2 separate regions of the Homo sapiens genome follow, and region 1 is linked to region 2. Evidence: fine-mapped expression QTL. Tissue or cell type: whole blood. Region 2 holds a variant in brackets; the other region holds the start of a gene. All regions are shown on one strand. Distances are from middle to middle.

What was found. PIP is the estimated chance that this variant, and not a neighbour inherited with it, causes the effect.
Region 1: CUEDC1 starts here. The variant in region 2 is fine-mapped to the expression of CUEDC1 in whole blood (TOPMed, PIP above 0.99).

What each region holds. Positions count from the first base shown.
Region 1 is chr17:57,952,219-57,960,320 of GRCh38, forward strand. CUEDC1 (CUE domain containing 1) reads right to left here and starts at 3,194. Exons shown (of 11, transcript NM_001271875.2): 1 at 3,007-3,194. RefSeq lists an enhancer at 259-760 and a silencer at 3,049-3,118.
Region 2 is chr17:57,893,325-57,901,426 of GRCh38, forward strand. The region is part of intron 1 of CUEDC1 (CUE domain containing 1); the gene reads right to left. Among named protein-coding and RNA genes, the nearest start is that of CUEDC1-AS1, 15 kb to the right of the region's middle. RefSeq lists a silencer at 5,644-5,938 and enhancers at 5,870-6,541, 6,542-7,212. The variant A/T (reference allele first, on the strand shown) is at 4,519.

The DNA of each region.
Region 1 (8,102 bases), 59 kb after region 2:
TTTATTTATTTATGTTTTTTTTTTGGAGACAAAGTTTTGCTCTTGTCATCCAGGTTGGAGTGCAATGGCACAACTTCGGCTCACTGCAACCTCCACCTCCCAGGTTCAAGCAATTCTCCTGCCTCAGTCTCCTGAGTAGCTGGGATTACAGGCACACGCCACCACACCCAGCAAATTTTTGTATTTTTAGTAGAGACGGGGTTTCACCATGTTGGCCAGACTAGTCTTAAACTCCTGACCTCAGGTGATCCACCCCCCTCGGCCTCCCAGAGTGGTGGGATTACAGGCATGAGCCACCGCATCCGGCCTCCAATGCCCTTTATAGCTCTTGCTTCCTGTAAGTGCAAGAGCCAGCAACACAGAAGCACCACCTCCTCCAGCTCACCTTGGATAGTCAGAGGTGACCCCTGTCAGACACCCAGCTTCCTGTGCCCCAAGGCTCTAGAATACTCCTGCCTCTGCTGCTTATTACCAGAGCAAATGTAGGAAGCTCTAAAGGAAGAATACCAGTGTGAGTGCTGCCATATGCCAAACACTGTGCTCTCTAGTTAAACAAAGAAAAATCCCCTACAGCTCTCTGTGGGGGACTTGAGCCTAAGGAAGTCTTCTCAGTCCCAAGGTAGAGAAGTCACAAATGGCAGATCGTCCTAAAGCTCTTCCAGATCCCTAGCAAGTGTAGATGCCACAAACACCTATGCAGCAGCCCAGGACCCAGTGAGCCAAGAAAGGAAAGGCAGGCCAGGCCTCCTCTGGCCTGGGGCTGCACTGGGGATAGTGACAGCAGCCCTCTGGCCCCCACTTGCCTTCAAGAGTCCAAAGGGATCTAAGGAACCGACAACACCCAGATCATAGCCTTGGACAATTCTGCCCCAAGACCTCCTTAAGAGTCGTCTTTCACACTTAACACTCTCTACTAAAGCACCTCAACCCCATTTCCCCAAGAACAAGCTGGAGCTCTTAAAGGCCTGGATCTCACACCCAGCTGAAACACCAGAATATCCACCTCCACCCAAATCCCTTTATTTACCTCTAATTCAATAGACCAGTGGGCCTAGTCCAGTGCCCAGGGCCTTCCCACCACACAGACAGCAAAATGAGCCCCTGGAAAAGGGCCACCTCATCTGCCCCCATCCTCTAGCTAGCTGTAGGGAGCTGGGATCTGTCCAGACACTCCAGGTCTCCATGGCCACAAGCCCAAAGTTGCATAGGGAGGTCATGAGAAAAGACCTTAGAAGCAGTCTGCTCTTTGAACCCTGGGATTATTCACTGACCAGCCAAAAAGGTGACAACTGTTCTGATGGCCCAGGTCAGACCAGTAACTCTAGGGCAGAGGTCTCAATGGAGGTCCTGGTTCCAAGGGGGTATATTAACCGTCTGGTGTTGAATACAGGTGTCTCCCTACACACATGCATTTTGGAAGGAGAGGAGTTAGAGCTTTCACCAGATTCTCAAAGGGGCCCATGACTCCAACCTCTGGCCCTAGTTGGCCTGGCCCAGGAGCTGGGGATACAGCCCTAGTCATATCAACATCCCTGGGCCATCCTCGCTGTCCAGGGTCTCTCTTCTATTCAAGGATGTGCCCAGGTCGGTAGCAGTATCCTGTTTCCCTTGTCCTGGCCCTTCCAGCTGCAGAAAGTGGACAGCGGGTTTCACACCCAGCCCTGCTGCACACGCTCCAGCTTCCTGGAGACCCGAGCCAGGTTTCTCCCAGCAGCACCTCTCCATCCCAGAGATGGCACCATATTCAAACTGAGGTACCAGTGGCACTGACCCCCAACAACAGAGAGGACCCAGCTTCACACTTGATCCAGCAGGGGCCCAACCACATGGTGAGATGACTTCCTCCGTGAGAGAATTCCTGGGGTCCCTCACCTCCTTCAGGCACAGCTGGCTATAAAGAAAAGGGGTGAAAGGCCCAGTACATCTCCCTGAGTCCTTTCTCCTGGGCCAGGTGGCTCAGGTGCTGCGGGATCACCCAGGGAAGGCTCATTCCTCTCGCTACAAGACGCTGACTGCGGATCAGGTGGGGAGCACGGTGGATGGTCTTCTTGTATCCTCTATCGCCTCCAGGGCATCTTGTTTCTAAACTCCCAGGGAGTCCCCTCATCTTCTACTCCACTACTCCACCAAAAAAAGGAAAATCTAAACCCTCCCTCCCCTTAAAACACATTCCGTCTCAGGAATTTAATTTCAGTGTACGTTTCTTAGAGCTAAAACTTTTTTTAAGGGGAAAAGAAATGGGCAGGGCAGTGCTGGGTGTAAGGCGACCACGCGACCGAGAAAAGGAAGAGGGAGGAATGAATAAACGCTGACACCAGCCCCCCTTGGAGCTCAGAGCCTGGGGCACAGGAGCCGGCGGGGCGGGCGAGCAGGGGCGGGGACAGCGCATTCCCAACTTTCCCTGGCCGAGCTGACGGGAGATACAGCTCCCAGGGGACCGGGAGGGACCAAAAAAGGCTGAGCCGACCTGTGACATCGGCGGGGGGCAGGAAGCGAAGCTCCCCTCCCCCTGAAAGGCGCTCGGCTCCCAGCAGGCGCCCCCGCCTGCCGTCGCCGCCCAGCCTGCGCCCCCAGGCCCGGGCACTGCGGGGAGGGGCGCCCACACAAAAGGGGGAGCGGCGGGAGAGGGGACTCGGGCGAAGCCGGCTCCGGGAGGCCTCGTCTCCCTTCCCTGCGGCGCTGGCCCGCGCCCCCCGGTCTAATCGCGCGCCCCGCTCCCGGCCCCCCAGATGCCCGCACGCCCCCCGCGCCCGGGGCCCGGGATGAGGTGGGGGCTCGGGAAGGAAGGGCGGGCGGGGACCTGCCGCACGCGGAGCTCCCGGGGAGCCGCGCCGACAGCCCCGGGAATCAAACTCGCGACGGCCCGGCCCTCCCGGCGGCGCCTGGGCAACGGGTCCCGAGAAGGTGGGGCCGCTGGGCCGGGGCCGCGGCCGGGATTGCGCGCGGGGCGCCGGCGAGGACCGCGCCCGGGGCCGGGCGGGAGCCGCGGGAGCGCGGGGGTCTTACCGGGCAGCGCCACGCGCGTCCGCTCCGCGCGGGCCGCAGGGGCCGGGCCGCGGGCCGGGCGGGGGAGGGGCTGCAATCCGCAGCGGTGGCGGCGGGGCCAGGCTCGGCGGCGGCGGCGCGGCTGGGGCGCGGGGAGGCGGAGAAAGTGAGGCGAGGCCGGCTTCCTAGCGGCGGGCGGCGAGAAATGCAGCTGTCCCTGCGCGGCTGCCGGCAGGGCCACAAGTGGGGCCGCGCGGGGAGGAGCGGGGCTGCGGGCGGGGCGGGGCGGGGGCCCGGCTGCGGCGCCCCCGGGCCCTTTCCCTATGGCCGACCCCTTTCCAGAGAGGAGGGAAGCGGACCTGGGGGTCCGGAAACCTACATGGTTGCCGGGGGTGGAGAGGGGAGCACCCAGTGAAGGCTGGAAAAATGCCCTCCGTGTACCTCCCTCCCCGGCCGCAGTGACTCCCTAGCTTGCGGGCAGGAGGGCGTGAGCGGGGTGCCTCGACCTCCCGCGCAGAGCGGGGTGCGGGGCATCCTGCCCCTCCCAGCTGCGGAGAGGGTGGGCGGAGGAGACCTGAGACCTCCGAGACTCCGCGGGGAGCTAAGAGCAGGGCTGCCCGACAGGTTCCAGGTCAGTGCCAGGAACCCAGGGTGAGGACGCACAGCTGGGGCTTGGGACACAGGTGTGGAGGAGGGGCACCTCCCTGGAATTAGGGCCCCGGAAAGGAAACCAAATCAAATGCTGAGGACACAGGAGATGGTGGGAAGGGGGAGCAAATCAAAGCTATCACTCGTCCACACCGACAGATACCACCTGCCATCTCCCATTTTCTCCTCCCCCAACCTCCCCAGCATCCCTGATCACTTCAAGGGCTGCTGAGCCCTGGGAAGATTTTCCACGGAAGAACTTGTTTAATAAATGGGAAACTGACCTTTGCTATACTTTTCCCACGTGCTTTCATTTCAGACTCCAATTTGGGAGTAGGTAGCCTAGGTCAGGTGGTGACCACCAAGCACCCTGCTACCTAGGGGATCTGAGGAGGGTGAAGAAGGCCAGATGCAAACTAAGCTCTGTCCCCAAACAACTTGCAAAGGGTCTGCACCCTCCTCCTGGAAAAGTCTGCCTTACAGACCCATTTGCCCATCTGGGCCCAGAACCCCAGGAATAGCCCCCCTCTCCCCTCCTCTGAGCGCTTGCAATTTGCTAGCCTTGCTGAGACAGATCGACACGCTCAGCCTCAGAGACAGCTGATGGTAAAAACCACAAACCAAAGTGCCCCAGACACCAATGTGTTTCCATCATTTGCATGTCAAGGGCAAGTTTCTTCAGCAAGGTGGGAAACTGGGAGGGGGAGAAACCTCAGAACCACACCCTCCTCGGGGAGGCCCAACGTTAGGTTAGCATGTTGAACGGAACTCCAGGACTGGGTTTCCAAACCCCTCTGAGGATCTCCTCTCTCCTGCTCCTCTCTCCCCACACTTCACTCCCTGGTGCATTCAATTTCCGGGGGAGGCAGGGTGCTTGAAATCCCAGAAGATGGTCTTCAGGCCCCAGGTTAAAGATTCTTAATCCGAAGGGACAGACCCATGCCTCTATACTGACTCCTGGCTCCTTTCCCAGGTTGTAACTGAGAGCTCAGGATTTGTCCGCCTGGCCAATATAGTCTAGATTATGTTATCAAGTGTATTACCTTACACTTACCCATAGTGCAGTTCATTTGTCACTTTCCTGCTTACTTGCAAGATCCCTCTGCAGTTCATTCCTGTCACCTTGGCATTTCAGGAGCAGAAAAATGCATCTGCAAACCTGGAGATTTCCATTTGCACTCGCCTATGGATTGCTCATAATTTTTTTTTTTTTGAGACGGAGTTTCGCTCTGTCACCCAGGCTGGAGTGCAGTGGCACGATCTCAACTCACTGCAACCTCCGCCTCCCAGGTTCAAGCAATTCTCCTGCCTACGCCTCCTGAGTAGCTGGGGTTACAGGTGGGTGCCACCACGCCCGGCTAGTAAAATTTTTAAATACATTATTATTATAGTCATTAATAAAACCAGTTGCTCTAATGGACACTCTTCCTTGAAGCACACTTTTCTTGGGCTTTGCTAACATACTCCTCCTTTTGGGTCTGTCCTTCTGGAAGCTTTTTCTCAGACCCCTTCCCTGCCTCTCACAACTTCCCCACCCCCAGACACCTCCACCCACTCCCACCACTGCCTCTGAGCCCCCAGGGCTCCAGCCCCTCACACCAGCCGCCTACAGAGGGCCACCTGTGAGTCTCCCAGACACCTAAAACTCAAGGAGGCTAAAGGCGACTGAGACCGCTTCCCTACCTAAGCCACCTCCTCCTACTCTCCTGAATCCACCTCTGGCTCAGAGGCTGGAAGCCTCTGTCTCCTGTGCAGCTTCCCTGGCCCTCCACTGGTTATCAGATCCTGTTCATTTCTCCTTCTCTCACCGCCTCACTCCTCCACTTCTGCCTGGTTCAGGCCCTATTGTCTCTGCTCTTCCAGAGATGTCCCTTTTGCTTTCCAGCCCAACCTCCTATGTGCTTCAGGAAACTCTGTTAGTTCTTCTTTCTCCTCCCCTCTGCTTCAAAACTACAAACACTTCAGGATACCCCCTTCTAAGGGAACCTGGCCCCAACCCTGCCCTGCCCTCAAGTCATTGCCCTGTTTCTCTCTTCTGCATTCATCAGTAGGCCTCCCCTAAGAAGCAACCAGACCCACTCTCTGCTTCTTCAAGCCCTATTCAATCCTCAACTTCCTACAATCTGACTTTCTTCCCCTTCATCCTAGGGGAAGGTGATTTTTACAGGGAGGCACCGGCATCTTTCTAGGGGAAGATGCCTTTCCAAGGGAGGCAACCTTAGGCTCCTCATTGTTTCAACCCATGGGCCTCCTCCCTATCCCATTCCTTCACTCCATTGGAGCCCTGGATGTTGCTAACGCCTCCTTGAAACCATTCCCACCCTCATGGCTTCCTAGCCTCTGCGTCTTTCTATCCATTCCCTCATTTCTTCAGCTCTGCCTGCCCCAGGGGTTTCTCCAAGGCTGAGTCCTCTAACTTTCTAACCAACCCCTCTTTCCAGATGTTCTCACAGGGGGAATAGAGTGGGGCAGGTACCAACCCCTCATGGCTCCACTTGCAGACTGCATATATATATATATATATATATATATATATATATATTTTTTTTTTTTTTTTTTTTTTTAAGACAGAGTCTCGCTCTTGTTGTACAGCTTGGAGTACAGTGGCGCGATCTCGGCTCACGGCAACCTCTGCCTCCCAGGTTCAAGCGATTCTTCCAACTCAGCCTCCCGAGTAGCTAGAACTACAGGTGCACGCCACCATGCCCAGCTAATTTTTTTATTTTTAGTAGAAATGAGGTTTTACCATGTTGGCCAGGCTGGTCTCAAACTCCCGACCTCCGCCCGCCATGGCCTACCAAAGTGCTGGAATTACAGGCATGAGCCACCGCACCCGGCTATTTTTTTTTTTTTTTTTTTTGGTTGTTGTCTGTTTGTTTTGTTTTGTTTTGTTTTTGAGACGTAGTTTCGCTCTTGTTGCCCAGGCTGGAGTGCAATGGCATGATCTTGGCTCACTGCAACCTCCACCTCCCAGATTCAAGCGATTCTCCTGCCTCAGCCTCCCGAGTAGCTGGGATTACAGGCATGCACCACCACGCCCAGCTAATTTTGTATTTTTCGTAGAGACGGGGTTTCTCCATGTTGGTCAGGCTGGTCTCAAACTCCCAACCTCAGGTGATCTGCCCACCTCAGCCTCCCAAAGTGCTGGGATTACAGGCGTGGACCACCGTGCCCAGCCAAGTTTTATTAATAACATTACCCCCTCTGCACCTAGTGGAGTGTGCTGATGACCTGTCCGAGCACCCCACTCCCTCTCTCAAGCCCCTGACTGGCATGTGTTACTGCCATTGGACAAGCTGTCCCACAGCCACTGCACCTTCAGTGCGGGGAGCCTGGAGCCCATCATCTCCACATCCTTTGCAAGAATTCTCTGTCCTGGATAAGCAGCACCTCCCATTCGCTCAAGCTGCAGATGTTACATGCTGCCTTCCTCCCCTCGTACATTCAACCCCCTCAGTAAACTCAGGGCTTTCTGCTTCTGAGTTTCTCTGGAACCTGCCCCCTCTCCTCTGCCCTGGCTCAGGCCCTGCTGCCAGGGCCCTGCCTTTCAATCCATCCTTTTCAGTGCCAGCAGTTACTTTTCTAATGTACAAACCGGTGATGTCTCTGCACTGCTGAACAAGGTGGATGACTTCCCATTGCTTGGAGAATGAAATTTAAACTCCTGAGAGAGGCCCTTCCCAGGCTGCCCTTAACTTCCATTCCAGCTCTTCCCATTTTCTGTCCTCATGCCACCCACCCACTCCCGGGCTAGAACCAGCCAAGAACAGGGCAGTCACCATGGCTCACATCTGTAGTCCCAGCACTTTGGGAGGCCGAGGCGGGTGAATCACTTGAGGCCAGGAGTTCGAGACCAGCCTGGCCAACATGGTAAAACCCTATTTCTACTAAAAATACAAAAATTAGCCAGGCGTGGTGGCAGGCGCCTGTGGTCCCAGCTACCTGGGAGGCTGAGGCAGGAAAATTGCTTGAACCTGGGAGGTGGAGGTTGCAGTGAGCCAAGATCGTGCTTGACTCCAGCCTGGGTGACAGAGCGAGACTCAATCTCAAACAAACAAACAAAACCAGCCAAGAACACTTGCTGTTTCCACAGACTGAATGTGAAGGTGATGGAAGCCTTTTGCTAAGTCTGTGGCTGTATGAAGCTCAGATCGCTGGAGCATATGGCATTATCTACTGTGAGAATGAGGCTGATGGAGAGCCACTGGGCTCAGGCTTGGAAATGGTGAGCTCTGATCGGACCGTGGGGAAAACAGGACATTTCCCTTCTGAAGGTCCCCCAGCCCAGGGCAAATGCCAGGGCATGAATGGTTGATAAGGAGAGCAGACAGTTGCGGCTCTGCGACCAACCACATTGTCCCTGCCACCGTGAGACCCACTCCTCCTCCTAGGACTACCAAAGACAGCTTAAGAAGGCTGGAGGTAGAAAAGCAAGTGGTGTAAACTTCCAAATAATTTGGATAATCCTG
Region 2 (8,102 bases):
GCAAGAGACAGAGGCTCTCAGGGTATGTGTGTGTGTGTGTGTGTGTGTGTTTCAGGCAGCCCTGACAGAGACGCCTTGTCCTCCTGCCCCTGCAAAGGCTTGTTTTCTTCCCAAGCTATTAATGTCGCTGCAGCTTCAAAAGCCGGGTGACCTTTAAACGCTGAGCCTCCTGCTCCTGCCCAAGGCTCGGAAAAGGCTTAATGGAAACTCGACCCAAATGGCCACAGCTGCCGGGGCTGCAACAAAGCCAGCCTCATTCCCGAGGCCCCCAGAGCTGCTGGGCAGCCACACCTGTGCCCACCCCCAGGCAGCCAGGAAGGGCAAAGAGGACCCTCGGGCACAGCCATTGGAGAAAAGAGGCCACTGGACCTTAGGGGAGGAGGAGGAGGAGCAGGGGAGAGACAGACAATGCTGTCATGCGCTGCTGTGTGACCTTGGGTACTTCTCTGGACCACTCATCTCTTCTACATCTGTAAAACACGAGAATTTGGCAGGGCACAGTGGCTCACGCCTGTAATCCCAGCACTTTGGGAGGCCAAGGCAGGTGGATCACGAGATCAGGAGTTCAAGACCAGCCTGGCCAAAATGGTGAAACACCGTCTCTACTAAAAATACAAAAATTAGCCAGGCATGGTGGTGGGTGCCTGTAATTCCAGCTACTCGGGAGGCTGAGGCAGAGAATTGCTTGAACCTGGGAGGTGGAGGTTGCAGTGAGCCAAGATCGTACCACTGCACTCCAGCCTGGGTGACAGAGCAAGACTCCGTCTCAAAAACAAAACAAAACCAAACCATGAGGATTTGATAAAAGGACTCCTAAACCTCTTTGCCAGGAAGAAGCCCCACTGCCACCCAGAGAAGCAGGACACCTGGTTTCCATGCCCACACAGCAGAGCTGCCGGCAGGGGTGAGGCTGGGGGCAGCCCCTGCCTTCCAAAGGCTACTCCATGAGCTGTGCAGGCTGGGCATGGCATGATGCCTTGGCCACCCCCACCCCTATCACTTAGATCTGTAAGGGTGGGGCATTCCTTTAAAAATTGTTTTTAATCTTTAAAAATCAGAAGAAAGGCCAGGCTTGGTGGCTCATGCCTGTAATCCCAGCACTTTGGGAGGCCGAGGCGGGCAGATCATCTGAGGTCAGGAGTTTGAGACCAGCCTGGCCAACATGGTAAAACCCTGTCTCTACTGAAAATACAAAAATTAGCCCAGTGTGGTGGCGCATGCCTGTAATCCCAGCTACTTGGGAGGCTGAGGCACTTGAATCACTTGAACCAGGAGGCAGAGGTTGCAGTGAGCCAAGATCACACCACTGTACTCCAGCCTGAGCAAGAGTGAGACTCTGTCTCAAAAAAAAATCAAAAGAAAAAATACGATTCAAAAAAGACCTTTTCTTTTCTAATTTTTCTCTCTCCTGCCTCAACACTTGTGGCCAAGTCTGTAGCCAATGGGAGATGTGGGGCAGGGACGAGGGCAAGAGGTTTCAGAGAAGGTGAATGAGGTCCCTTGTGGACAAATTGGTCCCAGAGCCTCAGTCCTAAGGACATCATCATTCATCTCTGCTCCTGAGGCCCAAATATCAGGTGTGGCTGCCACAAAAGGCACCATCAAGAAGCCAATTCTGCCTTCTAGTGAAAAAGATCCAAGATGAGGCTTCTCAGCAGAGAAACATGTCATTTGTTTGGTTCATCTTAGCAAGATAATGGTCATAATAGTCATAATGAGAATAGATAACACTTATTGCCTGCTTCCTTATATGCTAGCCACTACTCAAAGTGCCTTATTGCATGTTAACTCTCTTCATCCTCCCTACAGCTCTACAAGGTGCATATTACTACTGCTATTTCCACTTCATAGTAGAAAAATGAGGCGTAGAAGGGTTGAGTAACTTGTTCAAGGTCACACAGCTAAGTGGCCAAGCTGAAATTTGAACCCAGAAGGTCCGATTCCAGATTTAACACTCTGTATCCATTGGGCTTGATCACCATTCCATATTCCCTAGAGCCTAGCACAGAGCTGGGCACACAGCAAGAACTCAATAACTGTGAGTTAAATTGAATACTAAAGGACAGGGTTGCCCCTGGAGAGGCTGGGGGTGCCTGGGTGCCACTGGAGGTATAAGGGATGGTGCTTATGTCCAGGAAGCAAAGGAGAAGACAAAACAGTGGCAGTTTCCTCACAAAACCTTTTTCCCATCCTACTGAAGTTGTCAAGTTGCCTGAGCAACCAACTGTTTTCCACCACAACCTGGGCTGGCTGGGGACTATTTCCACAACAGTCCCTCACTCCATAAACAAAAGCCACCAGCTCAGCCAAGATATTCGACTCAGGTGCCTGGGAGGAGATCAAACCTCAGCGGATTAAGGGGGCTACTGTCCCCCTGCCCCTCCCCTCCCAGGTGCCACAGCTCTAGGGGACCCCACTGGGCTGGCAGGAACACGCGCGTTCATGCTACCAAGTCAAAGGGCCCACGCTGGAGGAAGGGGGCCACTGGTAACTCAGGTGCAGGGCCAAGGAAGCTGGGTTGGCTCCAGGCATGAGCTCATACTGGACCAGGCCCAGCTTCTTGGGAAAAGGGGTCAGCTGCTCCTCCCTGGGCTTCTCCTATAGGCAGTCAGGCTGAAGGCCCCCCCAGTAGGCTGAGTTCTGAGGTCTGGACAGCAGCAGGAGACACCTCTGGGTCCCCGGACAGGCAGCAATCCATGCCCCACAATTTAGCATCCGAACATGCCCAGGTAATCCGGGTCAAGGAACCCATGATTAGAAAGGAGTGCTCAGGATGGGCAGAGGAGGGTCCTGCAAACAGAACTCCCAACCCCTGCCCTTGCCCTCCACACTAAGGCACACTTTGCACCTACCTACTGATTCAGGAATTCCACTTCTATGAAATTTACCTACAGATGATATGTTTGCAACTGTGTTGAGTATGGGCATAAGGATATTCCTTGTAATAGTCTAACAGCAGAAGACTGGAAACACTCTACAAGTCTACCCGTAGCAGGCTGATGAAAATATGATACATTATCAGCATCCTCCTCTCTCTATATAATGCTATTCAATAACAAACAAAAATGAGGGATTTCAATATGTCTCTTTAGCCCAAGACCTAAGGGAACAATGCAAGGTACAAAACAATGAGTATAGTCACTCTACTATAGTGCATTATGGGGTGTGTGTGTGTGTGTGTGTGTGTGTGTGTGTGTGTGTGTATGAAATCCGAAAGGATTCACAAGAAACTGATAATATATGTTTCCCCTGGGGAGAACTGGGTCATAAGAGATAGATCAAGGAAATTTTTCCACTACAGATTCTTGTATACCTCTAAAATTTTGATTGATACTCATTTATTAATTTAAAAATAAAATATGCAAATAATCCATTATTATTGGATTACTAAGAACATTAAAGTAATAGCATTGCCAGTGATTTTTATATCTTTTTCTTCTTTCTTTTTTTTTTTTTTTTTTTTTGAGATGGAGTCTCTCTCTGTCATCCAGGCTGGAGTGCAGTGATGTGATCTCAGCTTATGCAACCTCTGCCTCCCGGGTTCAAGTGATTCTCCTGCCTCAGCCTCCAGAGTAGCTGAGACTACAGGTGCGTGCCACCATGCCAAACTAATTTTTTGTATTTTTAGTAAAGATGGGGTTTCACCATGTTGGCCAGGCTGGTCTCGAACTCCTGACCTCTGATAATCTGCCTGCCTAGGCCTCCCAAAGTGCTGGGATTACAGGCATGAGCCACCGCGCCTGGCCATGTCTTTTGCATATTATATCATCTACAGCAGACATAAGTTACTATTTAATAATAATTATAGCAAACGTCTATGAGCACTTGGTAGGTACATGCATTTTCTATATACTTGGCATGCATTATCTCATCAAATCCCCACAGTACAGCAATGAATACATCCATTTCACAGAAAAGAAAACTAAGGCTCAGAGAGATTAAATAACTTACACAGGGTCACATAGTCAGTGGCAGAGCCCGATTTGGAATCCAAACAGTCTGGCCCCGGAGTCCATGATCTTCTTAACTTCCAACCTATAGTGTCTCTAATTAAAAGTTTTTCTAGCCGGGCGCAGTGGCTCACGCCTGTAATCCCAGCACTTTCGGAGGCCGAGGCAGGTGGATCACAAGGTAGGGAGATTCAGACCATTCTGGCTAACACGGTGAAACCCCGTCTCTACTAAAAATACAAAAAATTAGCCGGGTGTGGTGGCAGGCACCTGTAGTCCCAGCTACTCGTGAGGCTGAGGCAGGAGAATGGTGTGAACCCAGGAGGCGGAGCTTGCAGTGAGCCAAGACCGTGCCACTGCACTCCAGCCTGGTCTCAATGAAAAAAAAAAAAAAAAAAAGTTTTTCTAGAATGTCTTTACTCTCTAATTAAAACAAAATTTTACAAAACCTGAATTATGGCCAGGCGCGGTAGCTCACGCCTGTAATCCCAGCACTTTGGGAGGCTGAGGCGGGTGAATCACGAGGTCAGGAGTTTGAGACCAGCCTGGCCAACATGGTGAAACCCCG[A/T]CTCTACTAAAAATACAAAACTTAGCTGGGCGTGGTGGCAGGTGCCTGTAATCTCAGCGACTCAGGAGGCTGGAGCAGGAGAATCGCTTGAAACCAGGATGCAGAGGTTGCAATGAGCCGAGATTGCACCACTGCACTCCAGCCTGGGCGACAGTGCGAGACTAGGTCTAAAAAAATAAAAACTGAATTGTGGTAGAAAAAATCTTAAGAAAGCAAACCCCAGAGCCTCCAGGGCTTTAAAACCTTTTCAATCCTAAGAATCCCAACCCAATCCTTCCTGCTCTGATCATTTAGGCAGGCTTTCTTCAGTCACTGCACCCCATGGTGCACCCTCCAACCTTGGTCAGGGACTCACCTGCCTCCTGCTGGGGATGCAGGGAAGGAATGAGGGCCGAGTGGACAAAGTGCTGGCTCATAGCATAGCTGTTTCAGAGGTAGAACCACAGTGTGGAGGGCCTGTTGGGGCACAACAGGGCTGGGGGTCTGGCCAGGAAGCTGCCGGTGGAGGGGAGACCACAAGTTGTTTACTGGTGCTATGTCTGGGGTAGGAAGCCATGGAGCGAGTGGTCAGGAGTGGGGCTTTAGCCTGAGTGGTCAGGAGTTGGGCAGTCCTCTGCTTACCTCCTGATCCTGCAGCTTATGGGGCAAGCAGGATTGCTCTGAGCAATCTGTAATATGGGGATACATATACCTTCTCAGATGGCGCTCCTGCAGGGGATTGACTGTGGTGGGCATGCACAGCACCCCACAAGGGAAGCTGTCAGTCAGAGGCAGCTGTTAGTAAGACTCTATGAGCACGGGCCATTCACACCCCAAGGCCACATAGTTCCAAGGGGCTGATTCTAGAGTCTGGCCCAGGCGTCTGGCCTGGGAATCCAGCCCTGAAGGGAGTGAATGTGGAGCACAAAGGCCTCCCCACTCAGGGACCTCCAGGACCTCAGGCTGAGAGGGCTCAGGGACCCCAAGGGAGGAGCAGGGAGCTGGGCCAGCAGCCCTGTGCCCATTCCTGCCCATACCCTGCCCTCCAGCTAAGCTTCCAAGGGTAGGAGAAGTGATTGGAATAATGCAGGGTGCCCACTCCTAACCAGGGGAAGGAGGTGGCTTGAAGGGGCCTGTCCCCCAAGGGAGGGGCTCCATGGGCTCTGGGCAGCAGGAGCACAGGCAGAGTGGCCCTCTCAGAAATGCCTTCTCTGGCAGCTGAGGAATGTAGGCCCAGGACAGAGGAACAGAGGCTGGGAGGGAGGGGTGGCTGGCCCAGGGCTGAGCTTCAAAAGAGCAGGCAGCAGCTGCGGCTGGGAGGCCGCCCGCCTCAGGCAGCCGGGACACCATCAGAAATTCCACCCAGAGTGAGAAGGGCCCAGCCCAGACAGCAGATGGGATAATTTAGAGCCACTCACTGCTGGGCCAGCTGCACCCCCCCAACCACAGACTGCTCCCTCCACCCGGCCTCAGCCCCTGCTCCGCCTGTGTAGCAGCAGCGATCCCCTTGCACAGTCAGGGGCGCCCAGAGCCCAGCTGCCCAGGTCCCCTCTCCTGCCCATCCACATACCCACGTGCCCACACGTATACTCTGGAGCTGCCACGGTTAGGGAGGCAGGAGAAACCTCATGTTTTCACTTCCACATGGTGCATGTTGCCAGAGGTCAGAGAGCCCAGTGGCTGCAGCACTGGGATTCGAACCCAGATCGTGAGACTCCTGGCCAGTGCTCTCTCCTTGTATGGGCACATACAGCAGCACATGCCAGCACACAGCTCACATGCCTGCATGTGCTAACAGGCTCCCACTCACTGCCACACACACCAGCTCACTCAACCCCATTCACTTGCACAGTGCCACATGCTCCTCCCAGGCCCTCGCAGCCATAGGACACAGACAACACTTTAGGATTTTTTTTGAACCGTCCCACACAGCCCAGGCACTCAATGTACTACTCCCCTCTTCGCCCAACTCTGAAGCTATGTTTTTAAAATTACAGTCACTCTTCTATACACACTCGCTAGTGCGCACTGACAGCACCCTCAGCCCTCCCACAGCCCACCCTCCAAGCCACCCCCTTCATTAGGCTGATAGCAGGGCCAGATGAGGCCCTGGGATCCCTCTCTTCCCCCATCTGCACCCAGAATGGGTTTTACAGCATTGGTAAGGTCAGGCTGACCTGACTTGCAGCAAAACTGGCCAGAACCAGGAAGTGGCACACCCTGGCCAAGACACCAGCTTCCTGGTTCCCTGCAGGCCCAGCTCCTAGAAGGCAGTGCAGGGAAGGACCTCAGGCCAGCTGGGGCTGGTAGCCTCAGCCCCAAATCTAACAATCAGGGGAAGGGGGCAAGAGCTTTTAGGGGTCCCATAACCAGCTTCCTTTCGCCTCCCGAGGGCCTCAATCTCTACTTCTAGAAAATGGAGAGAAACAGTCCCTGTTTGGTCTGATCATTGAAATCTTCCAGGGATATAGGTGGGGGCTGGGGGAGCCGGTCAGGACCAGAGAAAGGCACCACTGTTCTAGGCACAAACCAGGATGAGCCCTCTGCAGAAACAGCCTGCTGCATCCTAGTCCCCCAGGGATGGAAGGGTCTGTACACTTTCTTTAGCTACAGAACCAGAACCCCTTTCTTCAAATGAAACCCTCAGCAGAAGTCCATTATGTAAAGGCATTAAACAGAAACCTGCCCTCATCCACCCCCAGCAATTATGCATCATCAGAGAAGCTGCCATTTACCAAGTGCTAGGCAAAGTACTTCTCGTGCATCACATCATTTAATCCTCGTGACAATGTAGTAGTGCAGGTTATTACCTTCCACCATCATCATCACCATTTTATAGATAGATACACTGAGTCGTGTGTGACCTAGAGGTTGTCCAGGACTGCGCCACATTGAAATTGCATGTACATGTCAAGTCTCCTGACATACCACTTACTTGCAATGCATTTTAAAGCCTGGGTTTAATCCCTCATGCTCTCATCTTTAAAGCTGTTTGCATCTCTGCCTGTTCTGCTCACTGCTACTGATGAGGCTTCAGGAAATGCAATGAGCTTTTCCATCAGTCTAAGAAGTCAAATGTTCTTTGCACTATAGCAGGTGTATCTCAGAGGACGGTGGCGACCACCTTCCTCAGACTCCCCTGAGGTGTTTGCTAAGAACCCATATTCTCTAACCCACTATTAAATCAGAATCTCTGAGAACATGCTCTGGGGATGTGCTTTCTAACAAGCTCCCTGGGTCATTCTGATACACAGTAAATTGTGAGGACCACTCTCTTGCAAGGTGATGCAGTTCAGAGACCTGGATGCTGGTTTTGGTCCCATCACTAACTAGCCAAGTGACCTCGGACACATCATTTTACCTACTGGGCCTCCAGGTTTCCATCCGGAAAATGGGAGGGTAGGACTAAATAATCTCCAAGACTCTTTTCACCTCCAACATTCTCTGTGTCCACTCTAGGTTCCCAGCTGGTCCACAGGTATACAAACTGACTTTCACAGACTGCTTGGTCCCTGTAGCAGCCAGCGCACACTGTAGACACTCATGACATAAAGTTCCTGTCTAGTTGATTTAAGGAAACCTGAAAAAATACCTTACCTCTGGCT